Homo sapiens: one gene and its partners. The protein of the gene in region 7 purifies or fractionates together with the protein of the main gene of each other region. This does not show direct contact. Each region holds a gene or a part of one and is shown on either strand. Other genes may lie near its edges. The genes, in order: OSBPL8, GPC1, MTNAP1, GLG1, NDUFAB1, LAMA4 and HADHA.

Evidence for each region.
Region 1: the proteins of HADHA (region 7) and OSBPL8 purify together in Homo sapiens (co-immunoprecipitation; 2 studies listed by BioGRID and IntAct, with this or other methods). This does not show direct contact.
Region 2: the proteins of HADHA (region 7) and GPC1 purify together in Homo sapiens (co-immunoprecipitation; 3 studies listed by BioGRID and IntAct, with this or other methods). This does not show direct contact.
Region 3: the proteins of HADHA (region 7) and MTNAP1 purify together in Homo sapiens (co-immunoprecipitation; 2 studies listed by BioGRID and IntAct, with this or other methods). This does not show direct contact.
Region 4: the proteins of HADHA (region 7) and GLG1 purify together in Homo sapiens (co-immunoprecipitation; 2 studies listed by BioGRID and IntAct, with this or other methods). This does not show direct contact.
Region 5: the proteins of HADHA (region 7) and NDUFAB1 purify together in Homo sapiens (co-immunoprecipitation; 2 studies listed by IntAct, with this or other methods). This does not show direct contact.
Region 6: the proteins of HADHA (region 7) and LAMA4 purify together in Homo sapiens (affinity purification with mass spectrometry; one large-scale study listed by BioGRID and IntAct). This does not show direct contact.

The regions. Positions count from the first base shown.
Region 1 is NC_000012.12:76,357,272-76,360,771, forward strand, and holds part of OSBPL8 (oxysterol-binding protein-related protein 8), read right to left. Parts: intron 1,541-3,500; coding exon 1,435-1,540; intron 1-1,434. UniProt on the Homo sapiens protein: Lipid transporter involved in lipid countertransport between the endoplasmic reticulum and the plasma membrane: specifically exchanges phosphatidylserine with phosphatidylinositol 4-phosphate (PI4P), delivering phosphatidylserine to the plasma membrane in exchange for PI4P, which is degraded by the SAC1/SACM1L phosphatase in the endoplasmic reticulum.
Region 2 is NC_000002.12:240,463,163-240,466,662, reverse strand, and holds part of GPC1 (glypican-1 precursor), read right to left. Parts: intron 3,317-3,500; coding exon 3,151-3,316; intron 2,048-3,150; coding exon 1,917-2,047; intron 1,808-1,916; coding exon 1,688-1,807; intron 1,587-1,687; coding exon 1,453-1,586; intron 1,191-1,452; coding exon 1,015-1,190; intron 606-1,014; coding exon 373-605; 3' UTR 1-372. UniProt on the Homo sapiens protein: Cell surface proteoglycan that bears heparan sulfate. Binds, via the heparan sulfate side chains, alpha-4 (V) collagen and participates in Schwann cell myelination.
Region 3 is NC_000017.11:73,245,933-73,249,432, reverse strand, and holds the end of MTNAP1 (mitochondrial nucleoid-associated protein 1), read right to left. Parts: intron 2,193-3,500; coding exon 2,092-2,192; 3' UTR 940-2,091; coding exon of another isoform or gene 897-939; 3' UTR 474-896; downstream 1-473. UniProt on the Homo sapiens protein: Critical regulator of mitochondrial DNA (mtDNA) abundance. Binds dsDNA throughout the mitochondrial genome without sequence specificity and controls mtDNA copy number by promoting its replication.
Region 4 is NC_000016.10:74,600,615-74,604,114, forward strand, and holds part of GLG1 (Golgi apparatus protein 1 isoform 3 precursor), read right to left. Parts: intron 1-3,500. UniProt on the Homo sapiens protein: Binds fibroblast growth factor and E-selectin (cell-adhesion lectin on endothelial cells mediating the binding of neutrophils).
Region 5 is NC_000016.10:23,580,514-23,583,415, forward strand, and holds the end of NDUFAB1 (acyl carrier protein, mitochondrial precursor), read right to left. Parts: intron 1,863-2,902; coding exon 1,771-1,862; 3' UTR 1,763-1,770; intron 661-1,762; 3' UTR 501-660; downstream 1-500. UniProt on the Homo sapiens protein: Carrier of the growing fatty acid chain in fatty acid biosynthesis.
Region 6 is NC_000006.12:112,251,768-112,255,927, forward strand, and holds the start of LAMA4 (laminin subunit alpha-4 isoform 1 precursor), read right to left. Parts: upstream 2,801-4,160; 5' UTR 2,692-2,800; exon of another isoform or gene 2,675-2,691; intron 2,525-2,674; 5' UTR 2,384-2,524; coding exon 2,189-2,383; coding exon of another isoform or gene 2,021-2,188; intron 1-2,020. UniProt on the Homo sapiens protein: Binding to cells via a high affinity receptor, laminin is thought to mediate the attachment, migration and organization of cells into tissues during embryonic development by interacting with other extracellular matrix components.
Region 7 is NC_000002.12:26,234,633-26,238,132, forward strand, and holds part of HADHA (trifunctional enzyme subunit alpha, mitochondrial precursor), read right to left. Parts: intron 2,357-3,500; coding exon 2,223-2,356; intron 1-2,222. UniProt on the Homo sapiens protein: Mitochondrial trifunctional enzyme catalyzes the last three of the four reactions of the mitochondrial beta-oxidation pathway.

The DNA of each region.
Region 1 (3,500 bases), on a different chromosome or scaffold from region 7:
AAATAGGGATAATAATACCAGACTTCACAGGGTTGTTGTAAGGTGTATTTAACATACAGTCTGGCACAAATTAATTACTCAATAAATGTCTGCTGATACATTATAGTAATATAGTAAAGTGGATGACAGGGTGAATTAAGGAGCCAAAAAATCTGCATATATAACATACATATACCTACTTATGGGGTATGTGACCTTAGGCAGGTTAACTTGTGTCTCAGTTTCTTTTCTCGTAAAATGGGAATAACAACAATACAACCAATACTCTCTTCTAACACACTGGTATGCCACATGACTCCTGCTTTTAAACCTTTATTCGGTTCATTCCTCTAACTACTCTAGTATGTTACCCCTACCCCACTCTCCAAGCCTAGATTGCTATAATCCATTAGAAATCTTAATAATTCATCAGGATTCTAAGAACTTTCCCTCAAACTGAATTGAGCTCCCTCTCCTTTAAACTCTTTATCACTTGTCATCTAATTTCTTAGTAATCTACCATTTATTCACTTCTAGTGTTATCTTTATAGGTTAAAATGAGCTCCCTAGTTCAGTGTAAACTCAGTAGAGATTATGGCTTAAAGTTTTTTTTTTTTTGTCATGTCACAAACATCACTTTAATCCTTTCATGATTATATCTCAATGTAGTTCAAGATACTTTACACATTATCTGACTCGAATAAGAATGGAGTACAATTTAAGCTAGCAGTTGCTAAGTTTTATATTTTTATTGTCTGTCACTTCCAAACACTACAGTAATTTATTCTGGAAATGAAAAACATTTTTGAAGCATGGAACTGAGTTCAAAGCTCAAAAAATGCTTCTGAATTCAATCTAGGGAACCATCAGCAATTTTTCAGAGGTTAACAAGGCATAAGAGGTAGCTACTACTAGAGTGTGGTTCTTTTTTTTTTTTTTTTTTTTTTGAGACAGGGTCTCACTTTGTCACCCAGGCTGGAGTGCAGTAGTGTGATCTCGGTTCAGTGCATCTTCCATCTCCGGGGTTCAAGCAATTCTCGTGTCTCAGCCTCCCAAGTAGCTGGGATTACAGGTGTGCACCACCGCACCTGGCTAATTTTTTCATATTTTTAGTAGAGACGGGGTTTCCCCATGTTAGCCAGGCTGGTCTTGAACTTTTGGCCTCAAGTGATCTGCCCACCTCGGCGTCCCAAAGTACTGGGATTACAGGCATGAGCCACCACACCCTGCCTAGAGTGTGGTTTTTATTTAGATGTCTCCCCTTTTTCATTTTCTGTTTCTTTACCTTGCGTCCTGGTCTCACAACTTATCTATGATCTAGAATTGCTTTTGTATCTCAACCCTGCCCCGACCAAAACTCACATAACTTGAGTTAATATGAAAAACCATATTCATATCAAATTGTGTAGTAATTAAAAAGTTAGACTCTCATTAGTCTGCAATAAATATTTTTACCTTCACTTCCAGAGGAGTCTTGAATGTCAGGTTCTGGGGAGGAATAGCCTTTTGCTACTTTCTTCTGTTGCCTGGTTGGCTTATGTTTCATTTTGGGGACGCTAACCTAAAGAAAAAAATAACTATTTTGTGAATTTGCACTGTATTTTGGACTAAAGACCAACTGTGTACAATTGTCAAAATTATCTGCACATAGGCATGATATTCAGAAATAAAGACAATGATGAAATAGTCTAATTCAAATTTAACAAATGTGATGCACTTATGCAATCAAATGATCTTATTTTAATAGGAAGTACTTTGGCACAAATGTCAAAAAGTAAAATACACAATGAAGAGTATACCCAGTCTCTCTCCCACTAAATAGGTACCCATCACTATTAGTTTATATCCAGGGATATTATTATGTATACATAAACAAATATGAATATAGATCCCCCTACCTCTGACTGCACCAGCTATTATTATTCTCTAGTAGAATGTTAAATAATAGAATGTTAAATAATAGTGTGTATAAATCATATTTATTTTGTTCCCAATGTTAGAAACATTCCCACTGAACAATGCTGGGTTTCCAGTAAAACGGTTTATTTACTTTTAATCACATCTGGGTAGTACAGAAAGTATCTTATAATAAATAAAAATGATACCATTATTTTGTAGAGCATTATTTAAACTTACTGAAAGGATTGAAGTGGATGCACAAGATTCAAAAGTATATGAAACCATCAACTATGACTAAATTTTCCTTAGAATAATAACTTTGGACTCTATCCTATTAATAGATTTGTAATTTTGGTGTTCAGTATTAAACTTAAAAACCTAAATGCAAGAGAAGAAACTAGAATCAGAAAGACAAGATGTATTAGTCAGTTTTTATGCTCCTGATAAAGACATTCCCGAGACTGGGATGAAAAGGAGGTTTAATTTGACTTATGGTTCCACATGTCTGCAGAGGTCGCAAAATCATGGCAGATGGCAAAAGGCACTTCTTACATTGTGGCAGCAAGAGAGAATGAGGAAGATGCAAAAGTGGAAACCTCTGATAAAACCATCAGATCTCGTGAGACTTATTCACTACCACGAGAACAATATGGGGGAAACTGCCCCTATGATTCAAATGATCTCCCACTAAGTCCCTCCCACAACACGTGGTAATTATGGGAGTACAATTCAAGGTGAGATCCCACCAAGTCCCTCCCACAACACGTGGGAATTATGGGAGTACAATTCAAGATGAGATTTGGGTGAGGACACAGAGCCAAATCGTATCATTCTACCCTGGCCCCTCCAAATCTCATGTCCTCACATCTCAAAACCAATCATGCCTTCCCAACAGTCCCCCAAAGTCTTAATTCATTTCAGCATTAACCCAAAAGTCCACAGTCCAAAATCTCATCTGAGACAAGGCAAGTCCCTTCTGCCTATGAGCCTGTAAAATGAAAAGCAAGCTAGTTACTTTCTAGATACAATGGGGGTACAGGCATTGGGTAAATACAACTGTTCCAAATGGGAGAAATTTGGAAACAAAGGGGTCATAGGGCCCATGCAAGTCTGAGATCCAGTGGGGCAGTCAAATTTTAAAGCTCCAAAATTTTAAAGCTCCAAAATGATCTCCTTTGACTCCACGTTTCATATCCAGATCATGCTGATGCAAGAGGTAGGTTCCCATAGTCTTGGGCAGCTCCACCCTTGTGGCTCTGCAGGGTATCCCCTCCTGGCTGCTTTCATGGGCTGGCGCTGAGTGTCTGCGGCTTTTCCAGGTGCACAGTGCAAGCTGTTGGTGGATCTACCATTCTGGGGTCTAGAGGACGGTGGCCCGCTTCTCACAGCTCCACTAGGCAGTGCCCCAGTAGGGACTCTGTGGGGGGCTCCGACCCCAGATTTCCCTTCTGCACTGTGCTAGCAGAGGTTCTTCATGAGGGCCGTGCCCCTGCAGCAATCTTTTTCCTGGGTATCCAGGCGTTTCCATACATCTTCTGAAATCGAGGTGGAGGTTCCCAAACCTCAATTCTTGACTTCTGTGCACCACAGGCTCAACACCATGTGGAAGCTGCCAAGGTTTG
Region 2 (3,500 bases), about 210 Mb from region 7:
CACAGGCTCGCTGTGGGCTCCAGCGGGTTGCTTTGAGGCCTCCTCTGTAGGCCTCGAGGGGCTGCTTCTGCGGCGGTGCAGGGAGCTGGGGGGAGGGCTAGGCAGCCGGAGGTGCCCCTGAGGTCCCTGAAATACATGGCTTTTGGGCACACTGGCTCCCAGCTGACCTGAGGACCTCATACAAAATTAAAAGGCAGAAAGGCAGGCGAGGCCAGGCCTGGGGCTGGGACCTCTGCGCCTGCCCCTGCTCAGAGCCGCCGGCCCTCCCTGTCCCACCCCAGGCCTCTCCAGGCTGAGGTGAATTAAATATCGTCTGTGTTGTATTTTTGGCAAAGTCAGTCCTTGGCCTCTGTCCCTGGGGCCTTGGGGCAGTTACCGCCACCGGGGCCTGGCTACTGTAAGGGCCAGGAAGAGGAGGAGGGGCAGGAGGAAGGTCGGGGGCTGGGGGCAGCTGGCAGCCGAGGTCTTCTGTCCTTCCTGCTCTGACAGGCCTGGGAGGGCATGGGTCAAGGGCGTCCGGGAGCTGGAGCTCTTCCTGCTGACCTTCCGGCTGCAGAGGTCATCCAGACAGCCATCACCGCTGCCCGAGCCGCTGCCGTCGTCACCTGGGAAGGAGAGGAGGCTCCGGCAGGCAGGTCCCCACAGGAGACCCCAGTGCAGCACCACCCTGTAAGGGCCCGTGCCAGGTGACCCCAACATCCTTTCGGTGTGGAATCCCAGGACCAGCAGCACCTGATCCCCGCTGACCCCTGAGGCTGGGAGACTCTCACTCCCTGGGGCTGCCTCCCTTGGTCCCTGGAGCCAAAGCCAACAGACATCCCGGCCAGGCCTCCAGGGCGCCGCAGAGGTGCAGGGCTCGGTGATCGTGCCTGGGCAGCACAGCGTCCTCAGACTCACTGTGGTGATGCCGGAGCAGAGGGCCCCTCGGGTGGGGGAACCCGGAGGGCAGTCACACCCCTGTGGCACCCCCACCAACCCTGGCCCCTTGGCCGCCCGGCCAGGCCCTGCCCTCACTGGCGTCCTGGAAGTCCACGTCGTTGCCGTTGTAGGCGCTGCGCAGCCGGTTGGTCATGATCTTCAGCTGCATGATCTGCTGCCGGATGGTCATGTCCGGCTTGGTGATGTCCACCTCCACCTCGGGGTTGTTGATCTGGTTGGCCAGGCCGTCACCCATGACCTCGGGGAGGTACCTGGGGGAAAGGCAGGCAGAGCCCAGGTCACTGCTCCAGCCCCTGCAAAGGGCCATCACCTGAGCAGGACACTCTCCCACGCTCTGAGCCTGAGATGCCCAGCAGCTTCCAGGGACCGAGCAGAGCCCACACAGGCCGCAGAGAAGTGGGGCTCAAGCCCTCCAGCAAGGGACGTGGCCCCGTGCAGACAGCACCTGGCCCAGGCACAGCCCAATGGAGGCGGCATGGGAGGGAGGGCTGTGCCAGCCAGGTGGGCACCTACCGGCCTCTGGCCATCCCGTTCCAGCAGCGGTCATCACTGGCAGTGCTCAGGGCCATCTTCTCACTGCACAGTGTCCCTGGGAGGCTGATCCAGAAGTCCTGGACGTCGCGGAGCTGGGCCTTGGCTTCGGAGACCTGTGGGGCAGCAGTCAGGCCACTGGGCTGCCAGGGCCCGCCCGCCTCTGCCTGTCTGCCTCCCTCATGCCTGGTCCAGTGGACACGCAGGGGCCACTCACCAGCTTCTCCAGCGTGCCTGAAGGTGGCCTCTCCCGCGGGGCCAGCTTGCCCCGGCGCCGCTTCTCCTCAGGCCCGGGGCCCTGGGGGTTGACCTTGGGGTTCCCGCAGCCCTGGATGACCTGGAGAGACACTGCAGGGTCCTTGGGGGGTAGTGGGGCCCCTCAAGCCCAATGGGGCCACATCCAGGACCCCCACCCCGCTGTGCTCGTCACGTCCTCCTGCCCGCACCTTGGCCGTGAGCGTGTCCCTGTTGTCCTGGAGGGCGTTGATGGCCTCCGCCAGCCACGTGTGCACGCTGCCGATGACACTCTCCACACCCGATGTACCCCAGAACTTGTCGGTGATGAGCACCATGGAGTCTAGGACAGGCGTTAACACGCGGACACACAGGCGTTAACGCGCGCACACAGGCGTTGACACGCACACGCAGGCGTCACCACGTGTGCATGTTAATGCAGTCTTGACAGCACGGGTCAGCATGGGAGATCCCACGTGTGCACTCAGGTTGGCCCGTGTGACATGTGCAGGCCACGTGCACTCAGCTTGGCCCACACCCACGTGTGCACCTGTGCCACGGGCACAGGTGAACACGCACATACACAGAGGCCATTCTGCATGCTTGCTGGCCTGCCGTGTCTCGTATGTCCACGCTGGCTCATGCAGGTGTTGACATGTACATACGCTGGCTCACCTTGGTCCAGCTTGTGTGCACATGAGCCCGTGTGAGCTGGTGTGTATGCATGCTGGCTTACCTCATGCCCCCCCCATGTACACCTTAGTTCATGTGTGTGTTGCGTGCACGGTGAGCACATGTACAAGTAAAGCTCATGCATTTTGTCAGCTCCCATCACGTTAGCACACACCTGTTGGCCCCGTGTCAGCACATGCTAGCACGTGTTGGCACAGATGCATGCTGTCCCCCCTCATGTAAGCATGTGTACATGTTAGTGGATCTGGATAAGCATGTACATATTACCACACACGTGTTGGCATTGATGCGGGTCAGCCCAGCTCATGTCATCACATGCGCCCAGGAGCACACGCTGTACTGGTGGGCACTGGCCCACTGTGTGTCAGCAAGTGAGCACGCCAGTTCGCATGTGTCAGCCTGTCATGTGACGGTGCATGTATGTGTTAGCTTAAACAAGTGCCGGTCCTCGATGAGTCACACGTGTTGGCATGTATGCACACCGAGGTGCTTGCTAAGTGGGGAAGGACAAGAAACTATGACCCCACAGGGCTCCCTCCCTGGCAGCTGCCCCAAGTCACACATCACTCAGGACATTCAAAAGGCACCCTGGCCCCTCAACCCTGCAGCACCACCCAGATCTGGCCCGGGTCAGGGCATCCCTGATCAGGTCCCTGGGTCCAAGCTCTAAGCTAGGGACCACCCGCCCCCCAGGACCCCCAGTCGTGCACTCCCCAAGACAGTTCCAGGCCGCTCTCGCGGGTGGGGGCTCACCCAGGAGGTTCCTCCACTCGGCGTCCAGGTCGGCCTGGTTGGCAAGGCAGCCCTTGAGCACATTTCGGCAATAGTCAGGGCAGGGCCTGGCGCCGGGGACTCCCAGGCAGTGAGCACAGTAGACCAGCTTCATGACAGCTCTCGAGCACTCCGGGCCCAGGGGGACCTGGGGAGCAAGGGACCCTAAGCCAGGCCCCGAGGCCCTGGGGGTGCCTGGCCCCGGCCAGCCCCTAACGAAGCCCCAGGGTAGGGGGCTCTGGAGGGAAGTCAGGGGAGGCCTCTGCTCTGCCCCAGCTCGTGGTGGTCGCTGCCTGACTCGCAGGGCCTGCCAGCCCAGACGGCCCTCATTT
Region 3 (3,500 bases), on a different chromosome or scaffold from region 7:
GCACAGAGCTACGTAGGCAAATCACTCTACCTCAAGCCCGTTTTCTTTTTGGAAAATGAGCAGGATAGCACCTACGCCACAGGACTGTTTGAAACTAAAAGGAGAAAACACATGTAAAAAACCTTGCATGGCACTCGGCACAAAGCAAGCCCCAGATGTTGGCTGGATCTGCCTGTGGATTGCAGTAGGGCCTCTCTTCCTCCGTTCAAGGTTGGAATTTATATATAGTATGATGGCACATACTACAGGCTTTAGAACAGCTGCTGTCAATGAGTTCCTACCATCACAGACGTTGCTGGAATTAACACATGTAAGACTTCTAATCTCACCAAATGTCTGCAAAGTAGGAATAATTATCCCTAAATTACAGTACAAAGGAGGCTCCAGTAAACTGGGTAACTTACCCAGGGACACACCCACCCATTTCACAGGTGAGGCTCTAGAAGAGGCATATAATCAGCTCAGGGGAGTACTTTTTATATTTTACAAATAATTTTATTATGAAGAGTGGCGGAAGTAGTATGTAGATGCCCCATAAAGTATAAAAGAGTCTGCTGATAATAAAATGATTTTATTTTTAACAGCTAAAATAAATTTTAATGTGCATTAGAAAAACTACACATTCCCAAGTAAACTCAGTCTTTCAGATATTATTCAGGATTAAACAAGGCCGCCCCGAGGTTAATCCACTTACACAGACCACGTGTGAGTTACAGCCGGGGTATTCAGGCATGTCCGTGAATATTCCCAACTTGTAGTAACAGAACCTTCAAATACGTCCTCTCAAGCATGGACAGTAGCCTGGGTGTCACCATGCCTCTTCTGCGGGATGGATGGGAAGGTGAATATGGATTACGTGTATGGATTCTCACGCTGCATTTGTATGCACCTTGCAGGAAGATTCGGGAATTCAAGCTGCTGCCTGGAAGCAAGATCTAAGCGTTGCTTCTTACCTAGCGGGGCACTCCAATGCCACAGACAGGGCAGAACACGACTTTTACCCCCTCCTTCTGCAGCATGATTTTAAGAGACAAAACTTATAAGGCTGTTTAAAATGGTAAATCATGTTAGAGACGTTCTTTTTCTTTCCTTGGCTCTGTGAAGAGATGAGTAGTTACCCCGCCTCACACCTGAAGCGTACTGGCTTCTGTGGGTAGCAGTCTTACTTGTCTACTATTCGTTCTGAGGAGTCTTGTCTTTCTGGATGAAGCTTTTAATCTGGTGATCACATACATGATTGGAACTGGCTGTGCAAATGAACTGATAGGAATTTTGCATACATGAGCGAAAAATGTATCCTCACGAGGCAACTTTACATCAGTATTGCACCCTGGAGCTGTGAAGTGTGCTTCCTCGTCATGCTGAGTTTGTTTAGATCTAAATCTCAGAAAATAATCAGCTATCAGTTTACCTCAACAACGCTCTTAAACTATTCTGAACATTAAGAAGAGATTCTTGAAGGACTTGAGAAAACATCTTCAATTATTTTCCCAACCCAGGTGGCAGCAATGAGCAGACAAGGAAGCCTTTCCTTCCATTACTCTGTAGACATTTACAAGTCATCCCAGAATGTGGAGATGTTTCCAATGGCTTCTTGAAAGTTATCCACACTACTGTATTGTGGATTCTCAGTATCTAATTCAAAGAAGTCAGTGGAGACTTTTTGTTGTTTCCTACTATATGTGAGTTAGAATTCTTGGTACTTACCAATGTCAAACAAAAAAGCTGTCTTCTTATTAATACAGGATCTCACCTTTGCCTTAAACTTGGCAATACAAGGCAGATATCCTTTTAGGACTCATGGATCATTAAATAGTTCTATTCTCATTAAATAACTTATTTTCAGGGATATAAAATATTTACTGTGACTAAGTTAAACCTTTTCATTATGTTTCAGCACCCTGATTATGACAAGTGATACTACTTTATTTATAGCAGTGATACAAATGCTCCTGATAACCTTGAGGGCTGAAAAGCTATCCCTTAATGCTACCACTACACTTAGGTGTTACAGGGCAATTCAGTGGGCAACACAGGGCACGAAGGCACTAGAGAGAAGTCACGAAGGCTTCTCCTACTTAAACGTGCTTCCTAATCCAAACATGTTTTAGAGCGGCAATCCCCAGTCGTCTTCGCCACACCAATGCATGGAGGTACTGTGCTCTTCCAGGGCAGGGGTCGGCACAATTTTTCTGTAAAGGCCAGATAGTAAATATTTTCAGCTTTTCAGGGCATATGGTTTCTGTCGCAACTACTCGACTTTGCTGTTGTTGTGTGAAACAGCCATGGATGCCACCTAACCAAATGAGCAGGGCTTGTTTTTGTACATTTTGACTACATACAAAAACAAGGCAGTGGGCTGGCTTTGGTCCGTGGGTCACAGTGGGGTCTGCTGCCCCTGCTCGAGGGAACTGGGGGACCGGGAAAGAGGGTATTACTGAAGGTCATTCTCATCTACCTTCTCACCTTGAGAGTTTCTGGTCTTGAGTAAGGACACATGGGGAGGTGTGGAGAGAATCCTTAAGCATCTCTCCTAAAGAGCATTCACAGAGAATGGGCACAAAGCTCTTTCGGCAGGGAAGATTGTTCTGGGTTCCAATGAAGTTCTTAGTAATATTAAACTAAAATAACTGAATGTAGAACTCTTCCCCTCAACCACAACTTTTTTCCTTACAGAGAATTCTAGGATACAGGGATATATTGCTGAATACCTTAACTATGAGAATTTGTTGCAGAATTAAATTACTCCCACTAGGGATGGAAAGGAGCAGGGGATTGGGAATAGAAAAGGTAGGTAAAAAGTAGCCCCAGCATTCCAGCTTTGAGAAGAGAGAGAAACGACATACAAGTCAACACATGCTGGCTGTGGCTTTCCTGTAGGTTTTTTGGGATTTTTGAGACAAGGTTTCACTTCCATCACCCAGGCTGGAATGCAATGGCACAATCTCAGCTCACTGCAGCCTCCGCCTCCTGGGCTCAAGTGATTCTCCTGCCTCAACCTCCTGAGTAGCTGGGACTACAGGCGTGTGCCACTGAGCTCAGCTACTTTTTACAATTTTTTTTTTGTAGAGATGGATTTCACCACATTGCACAGGCTGATCCTGAACTCCTGACTTCATGATCCGCCCGCCTTGGCCTACCAAAGTGCTGGGATTACAGGCGTGAGCCACCGCACCCAGCATTCCTGTAGTTTTAAAAGAGCTGGGACATAAGAGGAACTGACCTCATGTATTTTGGCATGAGGACACCACAAGCAAAGCTGAGACAGACGGGTGTGTGCGTGTGATATATAACTAACCCTCTACGTTAGAAAGGAGGTTGGGGAAACACTTATCCATCAACGTTGCCTAAATTTCCTCAAAGCTTTTTCTACCTGTAAGTATCCAAGTTACTCTCTGTGGGCCAAAGCAGAAGTCAAAAAATCAGACACTGAATAGTTTGATGAGATGAAGAGACACAGAAAACCCACCAGCCAAAAACAACCCTAACAAATGGAGAGG
Region 4 (3,500 bases), on a different chromosome or scaffold from region 7:
CCAGCTACTCGGGAGGCTGAGGCAGAAAAATCACTTGAACCCAGGAGGCAGAGGTTGCAGTGAGCCAAGAATACGCCATTGCACTCCAATCTGGGCGACTGAGAAAGATTCCACCTCAAAAAAAAAAAAAAAAAAAAAAACAAAAAAAAACAGTGACAGAAATTTCAAGCTAAGAATAGCAGAGCTGTGTTCCACCCAAATCTAAATCCTAATTTTGTCTTATTACACTGCCCTAAAATAATTTACTATCTGTATGACATCAAGTGATTAACACTCTTATATAATCGCTTCTCGATCACAACAATCTCACTTATCAAACCAACTGTAAGCAATGGTGGTGTCTTAAAGTACTAGTGTCCTTCCACAATGATAGGTGTATAATAGAAGATCAATAATGACTTGATTATGTGGTTAGATTGCTTCCAACCAGACAGACAGCATAGGAGGAAATTCCATATTGGCTCAAACAAAACAATCATAATATATCCTAAAGCCAAACAATGTTTGGATTAATTGCTGTTTGAATTATTCATTGTCACTGATTCCCTCCATGAATGAATATGGAATCAGGAACTGGTACATATATAATCCTAGAAACTTTACAATATATACATACCCAGAGAATATATACAGGAAACGACTCATATAAGTTAGACAGCAGAGATCTTAGAAACCGTACTGTAGGGGCAGGGTGTGGTGGCTCCGCCTGTAACCTCAGCATCCGGGAGGCAGAGGAGGGTGGGTCGGTTGAGCTCAGGAGTTAGAGACCAACCTGGGCAACCCGGCAAGACCTTGTCTCTCTTAAAATTAAAAAAAAAAAAAAGTATACCCCAACTACTCATTTAACACATCAGGAAGCAGAGAGAGAAAATGCTTACAGTCATTTGTTAGTTAATGGCACTGACAGCTCTAGTCTCAGTTCACTTTTTGTGATGTTCCATGGATTCAATATAAATATCAAGGAAATACAACTAAATGCTTCCAGTGTTCTAGTACAAATCCTGCTTAAGGTGAGTTGGGATTTGAAACTCTTTTCATAAAGCAGAAATTCGGTTTATGATGCACTCAGACTAATTAAATTAGCGTTGGGTGATAACGCATTTGCCTGAGAAATCTACAAATACTTCAATGCACTGTTACAACTCAGTTGTTCTTGTGTCCCATTTAGCATACATTTATAAACCTATGGCATTCTCAACAGTCACAGACTAATGTCCTTAGCTACAACCACCCATGGTACATTAGAAAGAGTATGGTCTTTTAAGTCAAAAAGGACTTCCTGAACACCAGCTCTACCACTTAGGATATAACATCAGACAACTTACTTTAGCTCTTTGAGCCTATTTCTCTGCTAAAAGAATAACACTAGCACTAGCACTAGCACCTCATTATCATTATCATTGATAATGATAGTCATTATCAACAGTGAGACAATAGAGATGGTGTAGTCCACTATCTCAAGTATACAGTTAAGTGAAAGGTTAAAAGCAGAGTATAAAAATATTTACCTATGAGTCTAAAAGGGGGTTTATGGTTTGCAACACTGAAATGTTAATTCCTGTTCAATACCTAAATTAGTTTATTTAAATATTTACAAAGCATTCACTCTGTGCAAAGCTTAGAGCATGGCTACAAATTTATAATCTGAGACTGATATATCAAGAAAAGGTGGCAAGAAAGAATTTTTTTATGTTTTTCTTTTTAGTGTCAGAATTACTTGCAAAAGAAAGATTATACATTTAAATACAAAAACAAACAAAAAAAACCTTCTAGTTTTTAAAAAGTATTTATCACAGACATGCTTGAAGTATTTGAAATGACAGTATCTGGGATTTGCTTTTAAATATGCCAGCCTCCCAACCCTGTGCCCTAAAAATAAAAGGGCGGGGCTGGGCGCGGTGACTCACGCCTGTAATCCCAGCACTTTGGGAGGCCGAGGCGGGCAGATCACGAGGTCAGGAGTTCGAGACTAGCCTGGCCAATATAGTGAAACCCTGTCTCTACTAAAAAATACAAAAATTAGCCGGGTGTGGTGGCGGATGCCTGTAGTCCCAGCTACTTGGGAGGCTGAAGCAGGAAAATCGCTTGAACTCGGGAGGCTGAGGTTGCAGTGAGCCAAGATCGTGCCCCTGCACTCCAGCCTGGGTGACAGAGTGAGACTCTGTCTCTCAAAAAAAAAAAAGGGTGGGAACAGTTGAAGCTGGGTGATGTATACCCAGGGACTCATTACCCTATTCTCTCTACTTCTGTGTAAGAAAATCTATGGGGCACGCACAATGGCTCATGCCTGTAATCCAGCAGTTTGGGAGGCCGACGCAGGCAGATCACCTAAGGTGAGGAGTTCAAGACCAGCCTGGCCAAGGTGATGAAGAGGCTGAGACAGGAGAATCACTTGAACCCAGAAGGCAGAGGTTGCAGTGAGCCAAGATTGTGCCACTGCACTCCAGCCTGAGCAACAGGGCAAGACTTCGTCTCAAACAACAACAACAACAACAACAGCAGCAGCAGCAGCAGCAGCCAGGCGCAATAGCTCATGACTGTAATCCCAGCACTTTGGGAGACCAAGGTGGGCAGATCATGAGGTCAGGAGATCAAGACTATCCTGGCCAACATGGTGAAACTCTGTCTCTACTAAAAATACAAAAATTAGCTGGGCGAGGTGGTGCGTGCCTGTAATCCCAGCTACTTGGGACGCTGAGGCAGAAGAACTGCTTGAACCAGGGAGTCAGAGGTTGCAGTGAGCCGAGATCACACCACTGCACTCCAGCCTGGCAACAGAATAAGACTCCGTCTCAAAAAAAAAAAAAAAAGAAAATCTAATCTATGAACATCACAAACTTTTTATTAGAGACGGTGTCTCACTATGTTGCCAGGCTGGTACTGAACTCCTAGCTCAAGCAATCCTCCTGCCTCAGCCTCCCAAAGGGCTAGGATTTCAAGTGTGAGCCACTGCGCCCGGCTGAACACCACAAACTTCTAAGGAACCAAGGTCTCCATCTGAAACTTCGAAATACAAGACACTAGTGGAAAAAAAAAAAGTGCTACTGGCCATTTCAACCAAGAATAAGTAAAGTATTTTAAAATGACTGACAACATCAAGCATGCCTTCCTTATCACATACTAAGCAACAGTATCTTCTCTTTCTTTGGTATTATTACTCCACCTACTAGAACAGCCCAGGGAATATTTTTTCTTTTCTGCCTTACACTTTCTAATTTTTTGTTTTTATTTAAATAACTTGAACTACTAATAATTATACACACACAACTAGGACTACTAACACACCATTACTGGCTATTACATCTATTATTTCATAGTGGACCCATGATATACTTGGCCTTTTTAAAAGCATGACTCATCCGAGAGCGTTAAAAAAAAAAAAAAAGAATCCCAAGGCCAGGCACAGTGGCTCACAACTCTAATCCCAGCACTTTGGAAAGCCCAGCTGGGAAGATCACTTGAACCCGGAATGTGGAGGCTTCAGTGAACTCTCAAACCCA
Region 5 (2,902 bases), on a different chromosome or scaffold from region 7:
CTAAGCAATGCATACATGTTATTTACATCAACCCCAAGGAACCAACACAGTGCTAAGAGTAAAAGGGGCAGAACCAATAATGATGTGTGACAAATCAAACTGTGGTTTGATGTGTGGCAATGTCAAACTGACCTTCCAGGAGGAAAGAGAGCCTCCCATTCTCCAAAACTGTTAAACTGTATTAAAAGGGATCTTTAGGACAGTGATGAAAAACTAGTCCCACCTGCTGATATCAGCTGACACATCTGATAATAAGCTAATGGAAACCAAAACAAAGTTTTTTTTGAAGCAAAAAGTCCATTTCCATGAATATATTCACTCCTGATACGAAGGTGGGGAGACAGCCTTACTTCAAGTACATGGCTGGGGAAGCCATTGTTTTTGACATGCATGAATACAAATGACAAATCAGACCTTTAAAAATATTAAGCAATGTCAGTATACAAACATAAAAAAGCACTTTATAGACATCATTGAAAAACTGAAGATGGGGGAAAATGTTGGTTTTATAGATTTATTTTCAAAGAGTAAAACACATACAATTTAAATACAAGTCCATCAGAATCACTCTGTCAGAGTCAGCAAGAATGCCAAAATGTGTCCTCACTGCCAGACATTCGTCACTATCATCTGAGTCCTCTCTCAGCAAAGCCAAAGGGTCTGGAAAAGACAAAATAAGTTCAATGTTATTTTTGATGTATTCTTACTAATGATAAGTGACATCTTTCAGGTGCTAAAAATGCAGCCTCTGGCTGAGTGCAGTGGCTCATGCCCGTAATCTCAGCACTTTGGGAGGCCAAGCTGGGCGGATCACCTGAGGTCAGGAGTTCGAGACCAGCCTGGCCAACATGGTGAAACCCCATCTCTACTAAAAATATAAAAATTAGCTGGGCGTGGAGGTGCACGCCTGTAATCCCAGTTACTCAGGAGGCTGAGGCCGGAGAATTGCTTGAACCCAGGAGGCGGAGGTTGCAGTGAGCCGAGATTGTGCCACTACACTCCAGCCTGGGCAACAGAGCAAGGTTCCATCTTTAAAAAAAAAAAAAAAAAAATGCAGGGTCACTAAAAGCTAAAGACTAAAAACACTAATACAATGTTTTAATTCAAAAAGTCTTATTTGATTATTCTAGGTCCCAAGTAACAAAAGCTACTATTTACTGAGAGGCTTCTTTACATCATTATATCAAGTGATATATATACTCTCTTCAATTTTGCTTTCACAAAAGCCCCAGGTAGGTCCTATCATTACCACCATATTACATATGAGGAAACTGAGGCTTACAGAGCTAAGCAGCCTGCCTGAGACCACCAGGCTTATAGTGTGTGGCAAAGCTGAGAATAAACTTGGGTGTCTCTGACTCCAAAGTCCATCCTCTTATACATGAGGCCTCTCTTGCCTACTTAAGAGCCAGGTCACTTCAGTGTCTTACCCAGCAGGCTGGGCTTACCTTGGCTGAGTAATTGAGGGAGACAGAGGTCTGTTTCCAGGTTACCCTGTTCAGTACTTTGTACAATGTTCTGCTTTTGTGAGGACAGCTGACAATCAAGGGAGTTCTATCCAGGAATGACAGTTCTCAACCTCTCAAAGATCACCACCAGGGCTGGGCCCCTTTGAGTGGCAGACAACAGGAAAGGGCTTGCATTTTATAAGTAGTGAAAAATCTTGGTCAAGCATTTCCATTTTCTGTTTCTTCTTAAGTTTCCTTTATTGAAGAACCACAGACAAATCTATGGGTGAACATCATTTTTTAAGTCTATTTACCTGATACTTTATTCATATACATCCTTCTTATCTGCAATGTAATCTACAATTTCTTGTGGACACATTAACTTTTCAGCATCTATATCAGGAATTTCAAACCCTAAAAGAAAAATATACAACAATGTGAGAGAGTTAAAAAAAAAAAATCCTTTAGAACTGAACACACCTGACCCTTCTACAACAGCTACAAGTATATCAAAACTTTCAGCAACCTTGAATCCCATATAGGTTGTGGGCCAGTTAGCTTCTAGACAGTATGCATACAGGTTGGGTACGATGCTTTGGAGGTATGTTTGTTTGTTTGTTTGTTTGTTTGTTGAGATAGAATTCACATAATAGAAAATTCCTCCTTGTATATACCATATAATTTGGTAGTTTTTAGTATATTCACATTGTGCAACCATCACCATTGTGTAAAAGAAACCCAGCTCCCTCTCCCTCTCCCCACGGTCTCCCTCTCCCTCTCCCTCTTCCCACGGTCTCCCTCTCCCTCTCCCTCTCCCCAAGGTCTCCCTCTCCCTCTCCCTCTTCCCACGGTCTCCCTCTCCCTCTCCCTCTCCCTCTCTTTCCATGGTCTCCCTCTGATGCCGAGCCGAAGCTGGACTGTACTGCCGCCATCTCTGCTCACTGCAACCTCCCTGCCTGATTCTCCTGCCTCGGCCTGCCCAGTGCCTGCGATTGCAGGCACGCGCCGCCACGCCTGACTGGTTTTCGTATTTTTTTGGTGGAGACAGGGTTTCGCTGTGTTGGCTGGGCTGGTCTCCAGCTCCTAACCGCGAGTGATCTGCCAGCCTCGGCCTCCCGAGGTGCCGGGATTGCAGATGGAGTCTCGTTCACTCAGTGCACAATGTTGCCCAGGCTGGAGTGCAGTGGCGTGATCTCGGCTAGCTACAACCTCCACCTCCCAGCTGCCTGCCTTGGCCTCCCAAAGTGCCGAGATTGCAGCCTCTGCCTGGCCGCCCATCGTCTGGGATGTGAGGAGCCCCTCTGCCCGGCTGCCCAGTCTGGGAAGTGAGGAGCGCCCCTTCCCGGCCGCCATCCTGTCTAGGAAGTGAGGAGCGTCTCTGCCCGGCCACCCATCGTCTGAGATGTGGGGAGCGCCTCTGCCCGGCTGCCCAGTCTGGGAAGTGAGGAGCGCCT
Region 6 (4,160 bases), on a different chromosome or scaffold from region 7:
CAGTGGGAACATAATTACCTCAATCTCACCCTTTCTACACCATATACTTTGACCTTCCTGGAATGACTAATATCTTCTTTCTGTTTTTCAAAACTGAAGGCCTCCACTGGCATTCTGAACCTATTAGACTCTGACATTACTACAAATTTAATTCACTACGTGACATTTTTTTTCCAGCTGGAAGAATATAGATAAACAGATATAATAATATTAAGTAAAAGAAAACCATAAACATAAGGTTCTAAGGAATATTCTCAAATAAGGGTTTCTTTTAATCTGATCATCATCCACATTTTTTATAGTAACAATTGTAACAACTCTTGGCATATATAGGGCATTTATACTATGTCAAGCACTATGCTAAGCACTCTATTTTATCTAATTTCATTACAATAAAAGTATGAGGTATGAAGCAGGCATCAATAAATTCTGTCAGTATCAGTTTATCTGCAGTCTGGGGATCTGTAACTTGACCAAGGTCAAAGAGCTTGAAATTTCAACTTGGGACCATCAGACTGAAAACCTGCAATCTGAAACACTTTGCTGTGCTGCCTTCCTATTATTTCACCAAACATATGAGCACATAAGAAATTTCCTAGGGTCTTAGCATTAATTTTAAGGTTCTCTAAAACTCAAAAAATTACTTTCCTATTTTTTTTGTGGGATGAGAGTTACAAAAAACAGTTGTATATGGCTTGTCTCTTTAGACCTAACAGATACAAATACAGGATGCCCGGATAAATTTGAATTTCAGATGAACAATGAAAACAAATTTTAATATAAATATGTCCTCTGCAGTATTTGGGATGTGATCAAAATTCATTCATTATTTATCTGAAATTCACATTTGAGTGTCCTGCAATTTATCTGCCAATTTTACTCTTAAGTAAAATTAAGCATTTCATTCAGGGACTTTACGTGCTCAAAGCAACAGGTGGAGATAATGCTTCCCTGGGGTTAATTCCAAGCCTGTAGAGAAGCAAAGCCTTCCCATTGCATGAAGTCCCTCCTGGTCTGGCTTCTCCCCAAGTTTCTGGGTATGAAGTTGACCAGAAGCCATGCTCCCTCTTTTTCATGGAGGCTACATTTTATACCACAGTGAGAGGTTGGCATATTCTGACCCTGTCCACTCTCTTTTTTGGGGCAATGTGGGTAGGGCTTACTCTGAAGAAGGACCATGTTCATGCACCTTATTTTTAATCATCAATAATTAATAACTATAATTGTACTAACAATTAACAGAATTCATAGCAATAATCCATGCATCAGTGATGTTAGAAATGGTGTCAATCCACATAACTGTTTTAGTTGTACAGTTGCTGTAACCATAGCTATAGAGTGTGGTGTTTGTTTTGCTAGGTCAATTGCTCCTTCCTTTCCCATGAACTTAGGTGACTTTATTTTCCTCCCTCTTAGCATGTCCCATGCAATGGGCATGCTGTTGTCTGTTTCAGTTCAGGGGTTCTTAAATCACTTGTTCTGGATTCATTCTCCTTTACCAGACCTCTACATTCTGGTTTTGTTTCCAACTTAAAAGCTATTGTAAGGTATTCAAACAGCAGCTCTTTGAATAAACATATTATCAATAGCATATCCTGAGGCTTGATTTTAATGGAAACATCTTGTTTCTGGAATACAATGGCTCGTTTCTACTTAAGATACCCTCTCAGCAGTTGTCTAACAGCTCCTTTCATGACCAGCCACTCTCACTCACCCCCTCACCTTCCCTGCTGCAGAAGACTTCTTGTCTAATATGAGACAAAAAGATCCTGCAGTAGTGTTCCCACTGTCCTAACAGCACAGAGGAGCAGGAAGCCAGTGACAGGGCACACACGTTAAGTGCCGTGGCTTGACAAAATGACTACTGGGACACGCAAGTGGCAGAAGTCACCGATGTGCTGCTGCAGTCCCCGGTGAGAGTCTAGCGGATGAACTCAGAGCACCAACACATGCACTCTCACCCCTTTGAGCAGACACATTCCGAAGCCTCAACTTTCAACTCTCAACATCCAAATGCAACTTACAAAGGAAAACTCTTTATTTCAAGTTTCCGAACTGACCTAGCCCAGGTGAAACTCTCAAGGCACTGGGGAGAGGAAAGAGGCGGAGAGAGAGAGAAGGACGAGTGTGGCACAGCCCGCGGGGGCGCAGGTGCCCCAGCAGGGTGGCAATGGCAGGGACACTGTACCTCGGCCGCAGGCGGCAGGCGTCCCAGAGCCACGCGGGGTTCGCTCGTCTCAGGCGGGTCTTGCCTGCCAACCGCTGAGCTCCCTTCAATGTCAAAAGGAAAAGCGTTGTCGTCCCCGGACGCGGCGCGGGAGCAGGCAGCGCTCCAGAGGAGCCACAGAGGCAGAACCGAGCGCCAGGCTGAGCTCAAAGCCATTTCTCCGCTGACATCCAGTAGTGCTCTTCCAGGGCTCGGGCGCTGTGGGTCTCCGTAGGTCTCCCGCGTGGTGCGGCGGTGCCTCGCTTATTTTCCCTCCTCTCCGTGTGCAGTATCCCGAGGTGGCTGCGCAACCAGCAGCTTAGGAAATAAAGGGAAAGTGCGAGAGTAAGGGAGAGTTCCAGCCTCTCTCTCCCTCTCTCTCTCTCCCCTTCTCCCCCTCTCTCTCCCTCTCCCTCTCCCTCTTTCACTTTTTCTCCTTCCCGCAGAGGTTCTGGCTCAAGAACCTACAGATGGACGGAGCTTACAGTACGGCATCAAAAGGCAGACGGATTGGGGTGAGCCCCGCCAGCGCTAGGCCACCTCCTCTCCCTGGCCGTTCGGGACTGGGGACTGCGCTGTCCTGGCTTCCTTCTCACATTCATTCTCACCACTCCCTTTTTACCTTCTACTCCCAGGCCCTCCCACTCTAAGCTGGCTTTTCAGACACTGAGGTCCGCCTTTCCCTGCGGTCTTCCCTCCCCTCTCAGTTTGGAGCCCCTCCAAGGGCTCCAGAAGAATATTCAGCTTTTGTGACGCTTCCTCACCACTCTTATTTATGTAGTCAAGGTACCGGATGTCTTATCTATATTTACATAGATATTTTATGTGGCCCCCGCTAGTTTGCAGGAAAGTGGGTGGAAAAGGGATTCCAGGGCAGGAACCAAAGGTAGATGATCTCTGAAGGCAGAGGGTCAGGGTGCCCACTTTCTTGAGCAAGGTTTCTCGGGTTTTTTCTGGGGGATAGACTGTTGCACTCTTTGTGCTAATATCTTCTCTTCAGATTCACTGGCCACCCCTCTTCCTCCCTCCAGTCCTCACCCAGAGGGCTTGGGAGAAGAATATCTTTCACTGCAGCGCTGGAAAATGACTTCATTACCCAAATGCATGAACTTTTATTTACAAAGACCATCTTGTTTTCATCCTAAAGAGGTGCTTTGTAAGGGGCCCGGAACAAGGCTTGCAGTGTATGAGCCTGTCAAGTATACTGCCTACAGCCCCGGCCTCTTCCTCTTGGCCTGTAATCTCATGCCTACTACATCTGTCTGAATCATGTAACCTTTCCAAGACTTCAGGGTGAAGTTGGGCTACAGCTATGTCAGGGGTGCCCCTGTGGATGGGATAGTGTCTGCAACAGCTGATAGGTACCTTTGTTTACATTGGCTTCATAACGAGCTCTAAACATTTCCACAAGATCCAACCATGGTTTAAAAATGGTCAGATGAGACAACCATAAAATGACACCCAGGTAAGCTTCCAGGTGAAATAAAGCATTTTTGTATAACCTAATCATAAAATAAATAAATAAAGCCTTTCCATAAAACCTAATCATTAGCTCCATTTCATAGAACAAAAGTCATTTTATCTAAGTGTAAGCAAAACCATTTATTTTGCACCTAACATGTGCCAGATACTTGGCATATGCTATTTGTAAACCTCAGCATTCCTGCAAAGTAGTACCATTATTTTCCTTTTACAGAAGAAGAAAGTGAGGTTCAGAGAGACTAGGACATTTGCCCAAGGTCGCACAGCTGGTGGAAAGCAGAGATGGGGTTTGGATCCAGGCCTCACTGATTCCAAAGCTCTCTTTTACATCTGTATACACGACACTGCAACTTTAAAATAAAGAGTATGAATTCAGAGGTGAAGGAAATGGACACTTTTATTTTTTGAGTGCCTCCCATGTGCAAAAAAATCACATAAATTGTCTCATTTAGGGCTGGGCGTGGTGGCTCAT
Region 7 (3,500 bases):
GCGGGCGCCTGTAGTCCCAGCTACTTGGGAGGCTGAGGCAGGAGAACAGTGTGAAACCGGGAGGTGGAGCTTGCAGTGAGCCGAGATCGCGCCACTGCACTCCAGCCTGGGCGACAGAGTGAGACTCTGTCTCAAAAAAAAAAAAAAAAATTCTGGATCCAGAAAACATAAATGTGTTGCATAATTTATTTTTACTTCTGTAATAAATCATTAAATTACAAAGCTTGGTACAAGGGAAAATCATCTTTGGTAAATTACTTCACTATCAGATTAAACATTTCACTATCAGGTAGTTAACAGCAATAAAAATGACGCAAAAGAAAAGCTTCCAGGTTGTTTAGAGAAATCTAAAACATTTTAACAGATCCCACTAATGAATAAAAATGACCAGGTAGGCCAGGCATGGTGGCTCATGCCTGTAATCCCAGCACTTTGAGAGGCCAAGGCAGGTGGATCACCTGAGGTCAGGAGTTCGAGACCAGGCTGGTCAACATGGTGAAACCGCGTCTCTACTAAAAATACAAAAATTAGCTGGGCGTGGTGCTGCATTCCTGTAGTCCTGGCTACTCGGGAGGCTGAGGCGAGAGAATCACTGGAACCTGGGAGGTGGAGGTTGCAGTGGGCCGAGATCGCACCACTGTACTCCAGCCTGGACAGCAGAGGGAGACTCCGTCTCAAAAATAAATAAGTAAATAAAAATGATCAGGTGCAATGATGTTCCACTCAATGTCCTTTAATTTCAGTTTGTTTCATTTGCTATTTTGTGAACACACTTAGGATATGGATTTTGTACTTTTGACCAAGGATAACTAGTATATTCTGTAATTTTATACACTGAGAGTTGCTCAGCTGGCCTCATAGAAGCTACATGTATTTTCCTCTGGATATAGGTAGCTACTGCCAGGTACATCAGTGTCTTGTTAGACTTTATAAATGTTCTGTTTAATGTTAATTTTTTAGAAGACCCAAAATTATCTTATCAAGTGGTTTTTCTTCTAGCTGAATTATTTGTGCCTAACAAGAGACTGATTACTACACATAAATAATTACACTTTCAGTACAAATTACTAAACCTACAATGCTGGCTATCATTGTCTAAAATACAAAGAACATAACAAATACCCATATTTTAATGGAATTGACAACTTAACATTTTAACCTATTAAACTGACACTAAAATATCATTTCCCCTCCTTATGTATGTGTAAACAATTGTAAATAAGTTAATGTAGGCATGCATTCCACCATTTAGCAGAGGAAAAGAAAATACTAGCTGCATCTGTAAAGCTGCCTTTAACAATCAAGTCCTACCACCCACTTCATTTCCCCAAAGCAGCCATCTTCATGTTTGTAGTGTCTCCTTCCAGACCAACTACGATTGTGTCCATAAATAGTATCAAGAATTATTCCATGTTTGGTTTTAAAACATTTATAGAAACTATATACTGTATGAAACATTCTGCAATTTGCTTTTCTTTTAACTTAACCTTATGTTTTTGAGTTCTAACATCATATTGTGGATCTAGTTAATTCCTTTTACCTGTTTTGTAGTATTCTATTGTGTGAATAGTCCACATTTTACTTACCCATTTTCCTACTGACTGACATTTGGTTTTAAATTCTTCATTATTTCACACTACACAGGACCAAACATCCTTGTACACTGGTTCTTATAAACAAGGGGTGAGATTTCTCTAGATCACATGATGTGTGTGTGTGTGTGTGTGTATATATATATATATATACTCTGTGTGTGTGTGTGTGTGTGTGTGTGTGTGTGTGTGTGTGTATATACTTTTTTTTTTTAAGACAGTCTCACTCTGTCACCCAGGCTGGAGTGCAGTGGTGTGATCTCGGCTCACTGCAACCTCTGCCTCCCAGGTTCAAGGGATTTTCGTGCCACAGCCTCCTGAGTAGCTGAGATTACAAGCGTGTGCCACCATGCCTAATTTTTGTATTTTTAGTGGAGACAGGGTTTCACCATGTTGGCCAGGCTGGTCTTGAGCTCTTGGCCTCATGTGATCCACCTGCCTCGGCCTCCCAAAGTGCTGGGATTACAGGCAAGAACCACCACACCCAGCCTGATACGTACATTTTCAATTTTACAGGCCTGTGTCACTGTGCCCAGCACTTCTACTTTCTTTTAAAAGGAGAAATTATTAGGCCTAAGAAACACACTATTAACCAAGATAAAAGGTGACTTCAAGTTTCCTAAAACTTACTTGATATCAGCACCTGCAATAAAGCAGCCTGGCTTTGATGAGATAAGGACGGCACTTCTGATTTGATCACTAGCCCAGATTTCATTCATAACTTCTGAGAACTCTGAATGTAGCTCTTTACTCAGTGTATTTACCTGCCAAAGGGAAATATATACAGGTAAGGGTTTAAATTTGAAGCACTGGATGTACGTACCACCATCAAATGCTATTTTGATTATAAGAAATATACTTATCCGGCAGAAATATACTGTTAGAAGAGAGTAAGAAATATCATTCTCCCAGCAAGTCAGTAGCTTTCTATTCAGGCAGCTTTGGCCCACTACAAGCACCCCTTCCTTTAAAAATAGGTCTTCTCAAAGGAGAAACTCAGGGTCATCCTCAGAGTTTGAATCATATGTAGGCTATAAACAAATAGGTCTACAAACATTTATTGGCATGGAAAAAATCTGCATAATGTTAAGAAAAAAATGAAATACAAATAAGACATATAGGCCAGGCATGGTGGCTCATCCCTGTAATCCCTGCACTTTGGGAGGCCAAGGTGGGCGGATCACTTGAGTTCAGGAGTTCGAGACCAGCCTGGGCAACATAATGGAACCTTGCCTCTACAGAAAATACAAAAATTAGCCGGGCCTGACAGCACACGCCTATAGTCCCAGCTACTCAGGAGGCTTAGGTGGGAGGATCACCTGAGCCTGGGGAGGCTGAAGCTGCACTAACCTGTGACTGTGCCACTGCACTCCAGCCTAGGCAACAGAATGAGACCCTATCTTCAAAAAAAACCATATAGTATGATCTTAGTTTTGTAAATATTATTCATTGAAACTGAATTAAATGTGATTATCCCATGGAAGATACCAAGAAAAAGATGTGGTTATCTTTAGGTTTGAATTATGAATGTTTATTATTTTCTTCTTTATAATTTTTTATAGTTGAAAAATTTTCTACCATTGACATATATTACTTTTGTGTTCAGGAAAAATGTCCAACCTAAGAAAATTCTGAAAAAATATCTTAAGCTTGAATCATTGGTTAGTGAGTGCTAAAATTTACTCTAGTAAAGGGGAATGGCTCTTATTTACCTTAATTTGTGATAGTTGTCAACTGCTTCCATCTAGGTCTTATTACATCTAAGCCTCTGGCTATAAGTTTGTTGTTGTTGTTTTTTAGAGAGACAAGGTCTTGCTCTGTGGCCCAGGCTGGAGTGCAGTGGTGCAATCATAGCTCACTGTAACCTTGAATTCCTAGGCTTAAGTGATCTTTCCACCTCAGCCTTCA